Linked DNA regions of Homo sapiens: all the other regions are linked to region 3. Evidence: fine-mapped expression QTL. A gene starts in region 3. Each other region holds a variant in brackets. All regions are shown on one strand. Distances are from middle to middle. Region 1 has its middle 67 kb from the start of WSCD1. Region 2 has its middle 23 kb from the start of WSCD1. Region 3 holds the start of WSCD1 (WSC domain containing 1).

What was found. PIP is the estimated chance that this variant, and not a neighbour inherited with it, causes the effect. A credible set is the group of variants that fine-mapping cannot tell apart.
Region 1: its variant is the best candidate, but not a certain one, in a credible set for the expression of WSCD1 in aorta (GTEx, PIP 0.74).
Region 2: its variant is the best candidate, but not a certain one, in a credible set for the expression of WSCD1 in stomach (GTEx, PIP 0.59).

What each region holds. Positions count from the first base shown.
Region 1 is chr17:6,001,217-6,005,442 of GRCh38, reverse strand. No RefSeq gene overlaps it. Among named protein-coding and RNA genes, the nearest start is that of WSCD1, 67 kb to the left of the region's middle. The variant A/G (reference allele first, on the strand shown) is at 2,145.
Region 2 is chr17:6,045,641-6,049,866 of GRCh38, reverse strand. No RefSeq gene overlaps it. Among named protein-coding and RNA genes, the nearest start is that of WSCD1, 23 kb to the left of the region's middle. The variant C/T (reference allele first, on the strand shown) is at 2,099.
Region 3 is chr17:6,068,286-6,072,511 of GRCh38, reverse strand. WSCD1 (WSC domain containing 1) reads right to left here and starts at 2,133. Exons shown (of 9, transcript NM_015253.2): 1 at 1,860-2,133. RefSeq lists an enhancer at 2,066-2,897.

The sequences.
Region 1 (4,226 bases), 67 kb after region 3:
TTACACTGTCGGTGGCAGTGTTAAAAATCTTACTTTTAAAAACTGCATATCCCTAAATAAATTAACTACAATATTAACAGTGCAGAAAGAAAGTTTTACTAAAAAAAAAAGATATTAATGATCCTGGGTTAATTGATCTTAAAGAATGACAGATCGTTGGATAAAAAGTTGCTCAGGAAACCAAAAACAAAGACATGTGCAAGCAGAAAAAAATAAACCTTGGCATTAGCAATGCATCCTTCAGTGGTAAAATTATAAAGAAAATCCAGGGAATAACTGCCATTAAAAAATGATGATTAATTTTGATGGGATAGGAGCTTGGGGCAGTTTCTGGGAATGCTGGCAATGCTCTATTTCTCGACCTGGAAGCAGTTTCATGGGTGATAAATTTGTGATACATTATCAATAAAATATGGAGCTATACTTCTTTCTTTTGTGGACCTTTCTATATGTGTGCTATAGTTCTCAACAAACGTTAGGGAAAATAAACAAACACAGAAGAGAGAATGTGTTGGAATGTTCCATAACGGATGAAAGACATGAATCCTCAGACTTCTTCAATCTGAAACTAACAAAACTTCTTTTTAAAAAAAGTAAATCCACACCTAGACATATGATATGCAAGACAAGAAAGAAAAGCAAATATGAACAATATTTAATTCTATTAAATCTGGAAATTCGATTCATAGGTATCATATTATCTTCTGTGCTTTTCTGAATGTTTGAAACATTTTATAATTAGCTTTTTTAATATAAAAGAACCAGTGAGATAATGTATAACCATACCCAAAATGTCTGTTTAGATAAGTCAGAATAGTGGTTACCTCAAGAAAGAGATTTTTTTTTTCCTACCAAAGAAATACAGCTACCATTTATTGAAAGCCTACTGTGTTTTTAAAACTTAATTCATTTCATTTTCTTTTTTTTTATTATACTTTAAGTTTTAGGGTACATGTGCACAAAGTGCAGGTTAGTTACATATGTATACATGTGCCATGTTGGTGTGCTGCACCCAGTAACTCGTCATTTAACATTAGGTGAATCTCCTAATGCTATCCCTCCCCCCTCCCCCCATCCCACAACAGGCCCTGGTGTGTGATGCTCCCCTTCCTGTGTCCCTGTGTTCTGCATGTTCTCACTCATAGGTGGGAATTGAACAAGGAAGAGATTTTGTAACTGATCAGAAAGTGGTAGAAAAGTACCTTCTGGAGGCTAAAAATGTTTGTGTCTTGATCTGACCAGTGGTTTCATGGGCGTACACAAAATCTAACCAGCTGTGTACCTGAGATACACTTTACATACTTTAATGCACGTATATTTAACATCCATGGAAAAGTTTAAAGACGCTTAAGAGCTGTCAACATTAAATAATGAGATTCAGAAAATATGATTAAGTATGGAGTTTATTTCAGCACAAAGCTGGAAGATGGCTGCCCAGAAGACACTGACTTCAAACGAATGAAGTCAGAGTTCCAAAGTGGAAAAGTTAAGGTTTTACTGATATAGGCAGAGTCAGAGAGATGTTAGCAGAATTACTGCAATTTCCATACAAGAGCAGTACACACATTACAGCAATTTGATTCGCTACAGATTGCTATTAATACGTTCCAAGGAAGACTATTACTCCGTGAGGAAGGGCAGTTATCTGAGATGGTTTCATCTCTGGCACCATTTGGTCTTAATTATTTACAGGAAAAAGAAAAAGTCGGACATGGTGGCTCACACCTGTAATCCCAGCACTTCGGGAGGCCAAGGCGGGTGGATCACCTGAGGTTGGGAATTCGAGACCAGCCTGACCAACATGGAGAAACCCCATCTCTACTAAAAATACAAAATTAGCTGGGCGTGGTGGCATATGCCTGCAATCCCAGCTACTTGGGAGGCAAGAGAATCACTTGAACCCAGGAGGCGGAGGTTGCGGTGAGCCGAGATTGTGCCATTGCACTCCAGCCTGGGCAACAAGAGTGAAACTCCATCTCAAAAACAAACAAACAAAAAGGCAGAAGTTGCAGCTGCCTGCTGCATGACTCAGACTGCATAGCCACATTCCTCTCAAGGCTCAGAATAACGGAATGTTCCAACAGCCTTAAGTTTGAATTATTTTAAGTTTGAAGTACTTAATTTTACAAAGGGTCTGGCACAGG[A/G]TTGACATTAATATGATACATGCATGCTTTGGCCCTGTAGAAGTTAGAAGGACTTTTCCTTGAAATAAACGAAGACCCTCTGCAGCCTGAGTAAAGAGGGAGTTTATACAAGGAGAGGACACAAGGATAACCTGGAGAACCCATAGGTAGGAAGCACCTGGGCCTGAAGACATAAATAGCTGGAGGAGGAATGAAGCCCCCTGGACTCTCCCTGCACCCCTCCTCTGTGCTCCTCTCTGTCCGTCCTAATTTTTCTCTCTCACAGATGCCTGGTTTCTCTGCTCCCCAGACCCCAAGACAGAACACAGGTCTCTCTCACTGCTGGGTTGAATTCTGCTTTTTTAAAGAGATGGCCAGAGCAAGGATAGGATGTCTTCCAAATTCCCAGGAAAACAGCCTACCTTTAGTGCCCAACCTTGAGCTAAGCACACTGACCAGGGCAGTGGACACCATGGGAAGCCCCATGACCGGTACAGGTTGAATCAGGGGCTCATCCACTGTGGCCAAGACGATCCAACAGGTGCTCTCTACGACCTGGCAATGGCCTACGTGGGTCAGGCAATGACTTGACAGCCACTCCTTAAGTCTGGACAGTGTTTTCTACCTTACGAGACACTTTCACACTCATGATTACTTTTCCGCCTTTGTATCTTCTTGGGATTTTGATGTGAGGGCTAACTTACAGATGAGAAGATGGGTTCCTGGAAGACAAGTGACCTACTCAGGATCACGCAGTGAGTGCAGCCCAGCCGGGGCTCAGCTCCAGGTGTGCATCTTGATATGGCATTTGGGACTGGGCACCCCTGCCTGCTCCCCGCTACTACACTCCTGGAGCTGGAGTGGTTTATGGCAGAGCCAGAGGCCTGAATGGTGTGTGTCACATGCAGCCTCCACGCTCCTGTGGCCGAGGCTTTTACAAAGTACACTGCAAACCCCTTTGCCATTAAAGCAATTACCACTTCAAGGACAACCACCCTTCAGGCCTTTGGCTAGACACGGGGCCTGAATGCCCAGTCCCATGAAAATGAAAAACCCAAGTGTATGTGGAATGGCAAAGAGCAAGCAGGCCCAGGGTCACGGTCTATGAGCACCAGCCTCTTCCTGACTGTCTGCCCCTCCCCACCCTAAAAAGACGCCCGGCACTCTGGGATGCTTCTCTTTCTTTGTTTTGTTTTGTTTTGTTTTGTTTGAGACGGAGTTTCACTCTTGTTGCCCAGGCTGGAGTGCAATGGCGCAATCTCGGCTCACTGCAACCTCCGCCTCCCAGGTTCAAGCGATTCTCCTGCCTCAGCCTCCCGAGTAGCTGGGATTACAGGCATGCACCACCACGCCCAGCTAATTTTGTGTATTTTTAGTAGAGACAGGGTTTCTCTATGTTGGTCAAGCTGGTCTCAAACTCCCGACCTCAGGTGATCCACCCGCCTCAGCCTCCCAAAGTGCTGGGATTACAGGCGTGAGCCACCATGCCCAGCCTTGGGATGCTTCTTAATAGCATATCCCAGGTTACAGGAGCACGCTGGTGCCCATTTGTTCACAGGATTGGTCCTCATGGCCACTATGGGAGAAGATGGATGGGAACAGGAACCCGTGGCTCCTAAGGGTTTTCTGGCCCAGCTGGGATTCTAACCCGAGTCTCCTGATCTCGAGCCCCATGCTCCACCCACAGCCCTCTGCTGCTCCCTGCACCCATGGGACAATCAGAGAGGACAGGACAAAACTACATGACAAGTGAGTGACTGAGATCCCAAGAGCCATGAGAGAATTACCAGGCCATCTTCATGCTCTGTAGAAAAAACTGAGACCTTTCAGGAAATCATAAATACCCCTCAGTTACTATTTTCTCCACTGTACTCCATCCTAAAATGTGAGGCCACAATCTTTTCTGCTTTTAAAAGAAGCTCACAGCGGTCGGGTGTGGTGGCTCATGCCTGTAATCCCAACACTTTGGGAGGCTGAGGCAGGAGAATCACTTGAACCTGGGAGGAAGAGGTTGCAGTGAGCCAAGATTGCACCATTGCACTCCAGCCTGCTGGGTGACAGAGCGAGACTCCGTCTAAAAAAAAAAAAAAAAAAAAAAAAGAA
Region 2 (4,226 bases), 23 kb after region 3:
GTTTGTCCAGCTTCAAGTCTGCTCAAATTAATAAATAATTGTTAAGAGGTTGAATGAACAAAAAGCAGGAACCACATTACCCTTATTTTCTGCTACATCTACAACTTCTTGCAGGGTAACATACACAATTAAATATTTCTGGAATCTATGAATTTGCAGAACAATGCCCGAATTCAGCAACAAAGGGCAGGGGAGTTGTATCAATTATTGAGTTCATCATTGTATTCCTTGTTCCTAGCGAAGTGCCTGAGACCTAGCAGGAACTTGGTGATGTATTTATCAAGTGAACGAACGTGTGAATGAATTAGTGAATGAATGAATCGGTGTCTAGTGTAGAGAAGGAGGGAGGTGAGAGTCCTGCTGCCCAGGTATGGTCAGAGATAACCTGAGAGTTTGATGCACATGCTAAGAGCAAGTACAGAGGCAGCGAGCATTAGACAGAAGATTTCTGTAAATGTTGAAGGAACCGGAAAAGGTGTGACACTCTGTGTTCAAATGTGTCTTTAAACATCTGCCAGGCTGTCAAGGGGAGGAGGAAGCAGACATATTCTGGGGTCCCCAAGGAACCAGCGTTGGAAGCTTCAGTAAGGCAGATCTGGGCACAATGTAGACATGAAGATCTGTACGCTTTGTGCACCAGCCACATGTGAAGCATTCTGCAAGTTGTTTTGTTGTTGTTGTTTTTTTTGAGATGGAGTCTCGCTCTGTGGCCCAGGCTGGAGTGCAGTGATGCAATCTCAGCTCACTGCAAGCTCTGCCTTCCGGGTTCACGCCATTCTCCTGCCTCAGTCTCCTGAGTAGCTGGGACTACAGGTGCCCACCACCACGCCTGGCTAATTTTTTGTATTTTCAGTAGAGACGGGATTTCACCGTGTTAGCCAGGATGGTCTCGATCTCCTGTCCTTGTGATCCACCCGCCTCGGCCTCCCATAGTGCTGGGATTACAGGTGTGAGCCACCACACCCGGCCTGCATTCTGCAAGTTTTTTTTTAACATACATTCAGTTATACATCACACCTCCCTGAACCAGGCAGGACTTCCCCACACTTTATAGACAAAAGATGATGTGGCTTGCTCAGAGTCACAGAACAGGACAAGCCAGGACCCAGGGCCAGCTGACTTCATGGCCTATAGTTCAGAGCTGACCAAAAAAAGTCATAGGCTTCCTTGTAAGATCGTGAGTTCCGCATCACTGAGCTGGTCAAGTAGAGGCTTGGTTGATCACTTAACTAAGAGAAAACACAAGATGTAACTGAAAGGACGGACTGAACTGGAGTCTCGCTAGTTTCCTGACTATGGGTTCGCCCAGTCTTTTATTGGGCCCAACACAGCATCACAATGACTTTTGAAACTTTGGTCTAGTGAACTTACTTTAAGCAAGATCTATCTGTCCTCTAAGACCATACCTGACTTCAAGGGCAGGCATTGCAAATAGATTTTGTTTTATGTTTCAATTTGGTTCCATTGTTAGTGGCTGTCTGAAGTGCTGCCTTAAAAATAATTCTGAAGCTCTGTTTAGCCTTCATGGGAAAGTGTGCTTTGATTGATTAGTGATGTCTGTCACAGGTGCGGGGTAGTAGCTAGCAGATATTTGTTCTGTGTTTGCCATCCTTGCTCCAGGACATGCATTTTAACTCTGGAGAGCCCCATTGGATAATAGTGGTAAAGCCACAGTCATCTAAGAAAATACCAAAGTACATTGTCTTAGAGCCAGAAAGGGGATTAATTTTCAACATGGAGATTTGCAGCAGTCCACATTCCAATTCCTAAACATGACTCAACTCCCTTCTTTGTGGACTTGTTCTTTAATTAGGAATCTCTGCAAACACTTTGAAGCTGAGCCGTTTCCCAGCCATCCCAGCCCAGTGCCTGTCCCTGCTAGCTCCCCAGTCGCCCCAACCCACAGTCTCCTCAGAGCACCAGACTGGATTTTGATCAAGCAAATTGAAATGTATGTTTCCCACTGTGAAGTAAACAGCCATCCCCCTACCACATCTTTATCCCTGAAGCCAATTAGTGGCATGGCTGCCTTCCCAAGCAGAACAGGAGAGCATCTCTGTTCATCTCTTCTTTGGATGTTTTAGGGATGCTGTAGGCC[C/T]GGATCATAGCCTGTCTAGGCCTCCAGAAAATCTGGGATCCTTCCCTGGGCAAGTGACTTCAGGAGATTTCTTGGACAGCCCTGCCTTTTCAGTTTGCAGACACCTTCCCACAGGTGCCTCCGTGGTTAAGAGTGTAGGGTTTGGGCTAGGTGCAGTGGCTCACACCTGTAATCCCAGCATTTTGGGAGGCCCAGGAGGATGGATCACTTGAGGTCAGGGGTTTGAGACCAGCCTGGCCAACATGGTGAAACCCCATCTCTACTAAAAATACAAAAATTAGCCAGGCGTGGTGGTGCACACCTGTAATCCCATCTACTTGGGAGGCTGAGGCAGGTAAATCGCTTGAACCCAGGAGGCAGAGGTTGCAGTGAGTCGCGATCAGGCCACTGCACTTCAGCCTGGGTGACAGAGCAAGACCCCATCTCAAAAAAAGAATAAAAAGGAGTGTGGGGTTTGGAGCCTGATCAACTTGGGTTCAAATCTTGATTCTTCCATATACTTGTCCTGTTACTTTGGGGAAGTCATTTAGCCTGTCTGAGCTTTACTTTCCTCATTTCTAAAAGGGGAAGAAGAATATTCTAAACCTCATGATGCTTTATTCATTCCACCATCACTCATGCATATCCAGTATGCACATCTGCTCCATGCCACTGCCACAGTTTGCATTCAAGCCTTATCTGATATTCTTCTCTGTCTAAGGTTTGTGCCTTGTTAGGCATAACTTAAATTTTTTTAAGCCAGAGACATGGCTGTTTGAATTTGTCAGTGTCTTCTCTGCCTATGTAGGGACATTAAGTCATCTTGAAGCCGATTTTTTTTTCTTTCCTGGAAAAAGTCTCTGAAAGGAGCCCCCTTAGTAATGGAATAAGGGACACCAAGGAGCTCACTCTCCCAGAAGAAAGGAACCAAGGGACCTTTTCTGAGGTTTGATCATGGCTGCACCTCCCAGTATTCCAGAGCTGGTGACTGGGAGAAAATGTGGCAAAGTAGGGGTCTGTTGGGGGAAAAAAAAGGCCTCAAGAGCCAAGCTTCTTTCTCACATCTGAGGTTCAGCGATGCAGTCTGAGATGGGCCTGACTCAGGTCTGCTGGAAGCCCCAGGAGAACATACCTTGAGCTGTGCTCAACCCCCAAGTCTGGGTTGTGGTTTTGGTCTGGCCCAGAGGTGGCTCTGGCTGGTAGCCCCTCTTCCCAGAGGATGTGCTCTGGGGAAAATGCGGGAGCCAGAGAGTGTAAACTAAGGACGTTATCCTCAGGAACTGCTGGCAGCCTGCTGAGCATGCAGATCTGATGCAGCATGCTCCTGATACAGTAGCCATTAGCCAGCCACGTGTGGCTACTTAAGACAAAAATCAAATTAATTAAAATGAAATACACTTGAAACTTGAGTTCTTCAATCCCAACTAGCCATCTTTCAAGGGCTCAACTGCCGCATGTGGTTCGTGGTTACCTTAGATGGTGCAGAATGATAGGACATTTCAATCACTGCAATAAATTCCGCTGGACAGTGCTAATCTAGAAAAGAGTTTCTCAACATTGGCACTGCTGACATTTTGGGCCTGATACATTTTTGTTCAGGGAGGCTGTCCCGTGAACGTAGAATGTTAAGCAGCATCTCTGGCCTTTACCCACTAGATGCCAGTAGCACCTCACCCCCAGTTGTGACAACCAAAATATCTCCAGGCATGGCCAAATGTCCTTAGGAGAAGAGGGGAAATTGCCCCTAGTTGAGAACCACTGGGTTAGACCCTATAGACCATCATGAGCATTGCTCAGGAGTGGCCATAAATGCAACTGGGCTTGGCTAGTTTTCTTCAAGGCCCTGGGATAGTAGCAACAGTCTGCACAGTCCAGCCAGCCCTATCAGAATGAGCCAAGCAAGGGTCTAGGGTTCTTGGACAATGGGAAGGATGGAACAGGAGGAGGGTTGGCAAGGAGGCTCTAAGGAGCACTTGGCTCAGACAGGTTACATCTGCATCCCTGCCAGGCCTCCTCCAAGGCCTGCCTTCTGGCCTCCTGTTTCCTCACTCACGATTAGCCCCACACACTGGCTACTAGAGTAATTGTTGTAACAGTAATATCCCCCTGACTGTTATTTCTCTCTTTAAGTATACCCAATGTTTCCCAT
Region 3 (4,226 bases):
TGGGGGTCTGAGCTGGATGGGAGTACAAGCTTGGAGCTTCTATAATGAGAAACACCACTTCCCTAGAGGCCCTGCTCGGAGGGGTTCCATCAGGGCCTGGAGGCTCTGGATTCAGAGGCTCTGAGTCGCCTGCTCAGGCTGATGCCATAAGGAACCAGCTCTGTGACTCATTCCCCAGTGCTCTGGCCAAACTGATCAGGTTGGAGGCTCAAGCTTCAGCAGCAGACCCACTAGTGGCACTGAATATCCACTTCTGCTCGGTTAGGAAGACAGGAGGAAGAGACAGGAGTCTGGCCTTCTGCCTTATCCCAGCTTCTCTTCACTTCCAACCAGACATGCCACAGGCCACAGGGCAGTACCCCATAGGGCACAATGCCCACTGAAGAGAGGGATCCCCTCACCCCAGAAGAAGGCATTTTTACAGAGGAGCTGTGGAAATGGCCCTGCTGAGGCCTGGAGGATGCAGCCACAGGTGAGAGCCTTCTGGCGGAGAAGATGAGGCAGTCAGGCTCAGCCACCAGCCCAACCACCGCCAAGCCTCCTTCAGATCCCATGCCTGGGAGAGCTCCTGCTCTTCCTCCTAGAAACCCTGAGCTCTGGCAGCCGGTTGAGGCCCCTTCCCGGAGGATCTCCTGAGGGCCAATCTAAGTGTGTGGGGGTGGGGGCATGATTGAGAGAGACAAACCTCATTCTCCCATAGCCCAAGGAAACCTCCCCTAGCTCTCTCCCCAGCACCTGCAGCCACCAGGAGTGGGTGATTGCAAACAGCGCAGGGCAAGCCAGCTTTATATCTCCTGTAACTTTCACTCCCCACCACCCTCACTTTCTGTGCCTGACAACCTAGGCAAATCAGAGGAAAAAAGAAAGGCCCCCACTCCTGATGCCAAAGTGGGATAAACCAAGTGCCTCCATAAACCTAAGCATGCTGTTCCAGCAACAAGAGGGATGCGGGTATCTCATGTTAGAAAAGTACAGCGGAGTCCTGCATCTGTCCATCTTGGGAGCTGCAGGGGCAGGGCCAGTGTGGGGAGCAGCTGGATCCCAGTGCAGGGCTATGAGGCTAGAACTCCTATATGAGCCTTCCCACTGCTCAGCGGAAGGAAGAGCGGTCCCCTTCCCCACCCGCATTCCCGATCAGCAGAGCAGGCATCATCCCAGGCGCACAAATGCTCAGGAAAACCACCAGCGAGGTTACCCGGAGGCAGGGGACCCAGCCAGGTACGTACGCTCCTGAGTAGCCAAGAAAAACGCAATTTAGCAACCTTCAGTCGTGAGTCTCCGTCCACACCTACGAAGACGCAAAGCTCTACACTAGGTAATTTTCTGGACAAAATACATACGTTTTGCTTTTGCCTCTGCCTCTGTTCAAGTTCACCAAGAGACGGAGCAAACCCTCCGCTGACCGGAAGCCTCTCTTGGTAGCGGAACGAGAGGGAGCTGCTTCTGGGTAAACGTCGCCGCCTAGGAGGGAAGCTGTGCGCACCCCACACCCTGCCCTCGCCCCCTCCCCGGGACCAACCGCAGCGCCCTCCCGGGTGACGGACGGGCTCTCAGGACTCCGGAGGGGGACGCGGCTCGTGCGGCGCCTCGCGCACCCCCACCCCATCCCGGCCGCGCCGAGCGCCGCCCCCGCCCCCCCACAACCCCTGCACGCACCCGCTCACTCTCCCCTGCCCCGGCCGAGCCGCCCCGGGCCCCCGGGAAGGTGCCCCCGGCAAGCCCGCCCTGCAGCCGGAGCAGGTGCAGCCCCGCCGCGCTCCCAACCGCGTCTGCACAAACTTGTTTGCCCGCGGCAAGGGGAACACCCTGCTCGCAGCCCGCGCGGGGGTCCGGCTGGAGCGCCGAGAGACAGGACTCACCCCGCGATCGCGGCCGGCTGGGGCGCCCGCACCCGCGCCCATGGCCCGCCTTCCCCGGGCGCCGAGCCCGCAGCCCCCCGCAGTGCCCGGAGCCCAGAAGCCCCGGCGCCCGCACGTCTCCGGCCGCCCGCGGCAAGCGGACCCACGCGCCCGGGCACAGGGCGCCGCCGCCTGGCTCCCCGGGGCTGCTGGCGTCCGGGCTGAACGGCGGGGCGGGCGGGCGGGCGCGGAGCCGGGGCGGGCAGCGGGCGGGCGAGCGGGCGCCGGGCTCTGCACATGCTCACTCGCGCGGCCCGGGGACAGCGGCCGGCCGCCGCCGGGTCCTAGAGGCGCCGGTGCGCACCTCCCGCCGCCCGGGGGAGGGGTCGCGGCTCCGCCGGAGGGGGCCCACGCCCTGCCCCGGCCCGCGAGAACACGCGCGCGGGGCGGGCCACACGCGCCACTGCCGAGCAGAGACGCCGCCACCCACTCTGATACACACACACACACACACACACACCAGTCACCCAGAGCCACAGCCTTTCACCGGGGCCCCACGGGCTCTAACACACGCACCATGACGCTCACACCCAGACACAGACCCACAAACACACGGGGCACTGCCGCGCAGAGGAGAGCACGCCGCCACTCTCCCATGCAGACTCACAGCGACAGCCGCACACTGCCTGACACACACATCCCGAATCACTGCTTCCCAGAGACACCGACACCCACACTCACACACACACTCTCTGGGCTCTGCCCCACTCACCCAGAAGCAGACTGGGCCACTGTGACAGGCACGCACACGTACACACACAGCCACACAGTTTAGAGTGCACTCTAATACACACACACACCACACACGCACGCACACACACACACACACACACACACACCGGATCACCGTCCCATGCAGAGCTAGAGACAGACGGTCACAGCTTCACACACATTCACACTCAGAAACAAGCACCTGCTGGAACACAGACACTCTCACACAATCTGAGACAGACCTACACAGAATTGCAGCCCTACAAATACCCTGACACCAGCTCCCGCGTCTACACACTCGGGGGTCGGCCGCCGGCTTATCATACTGCTCCACACCGCACACAGTGACAAACCCACGCCTTGACATAGTTGCCCACAGAAGCAATGTCACACACTGGTGTCTACTAACAGACACACTCTCAGAGGGGCATACTGGGCATTGACCCACAGGCTCTCTCTCTCTCTCTCTCTCTCACACACACACACACACACACACACACACACACACACACGCACCGAGGTGGAAAGAGGCTGAACAGTCACACAAGTCTATACACAATCCCCCTCTTTAAATAAAGGCTGGATCCAAACCTAAAGATTTTTCCCAGGGAGGAGCCCCACCCTGTTCCCCCAAAGCCGCCAAGTCACAGCATCTGCCCTGCTCTGCCATGTGCACCGGTGGACCCTGTCCTCACCCGGAGCTGGCTGCTAAGATGCTCCCAGAAGCTGAGGACAGCAGAGGCAGCAGGAGCAGGTGGTGGTGCCTCTTACTCCGTCTTCCTAAAAGGGAGTTTCATGCCTCCGACTCCCGCTAGGGGCAGAGCTGCTTGGCCTGGCTCCGAGGAGCTGGCTTGCAACAGGTGCAGGTGGCAGGGAAAGCGTTTGCCTGGGGACCAGTCACAGTCCCTCCTTACGCGGGTCAGTCAGGTGGCGCCCAGAGCGGGAAGAGACTCGCTGCAGTTTGCATAGCTATGTCTGGCCAAGTGCAGAATTAGAACAGAGTCTGCACCATCCGCATGAAGGCAGAATGCTCTGAAGGTCTTGGGGCACCTGGATTTAATATCCTTAAGCCCAGGAAGAGGATACAGTAAGTGAGAGACGAATTCTGTGCTGCCTCAGAGTCCCAACCTTGCAGAAAAGCCCCCTTCACATATATATCCTTTACAGAATGTGAATGTGTGTGTCGTTACGATTTATAACAGCAACCCACTGTGCAGTCTCGCAATGCTGTTTGGTTTGCAAAGCCCTCTCCATGACCAGCTACATAATTTGAAGGGCCTAAAATAAAAATGGAGCCCCCTTTTAAAACACTATCAAGAATTTCGAGAGATAAAAGGAGGATATTAAACCAGTACGGGTCCCTTCTGAGCACAGAATTCAGAGCCTTTCACAGATCTCATACCCATGAAGCCAGCCCTGGCCCTCTCGTACCCATTGTCCCACTTAAAACTGATAAGTCTATAGATGCCTTCATGTGCCCATTTGACAGATGAGGCTTTCAGGTGGGTGATCACAAAAGGCTCACAGCCAGTTGAGCCCAGGGGAATTCAAGCCCAGCTCCTCTGGGAAGCCAGACATTTCCCGGCAGCTGCTATTCAGAAGTGTCCATCTGCAGCA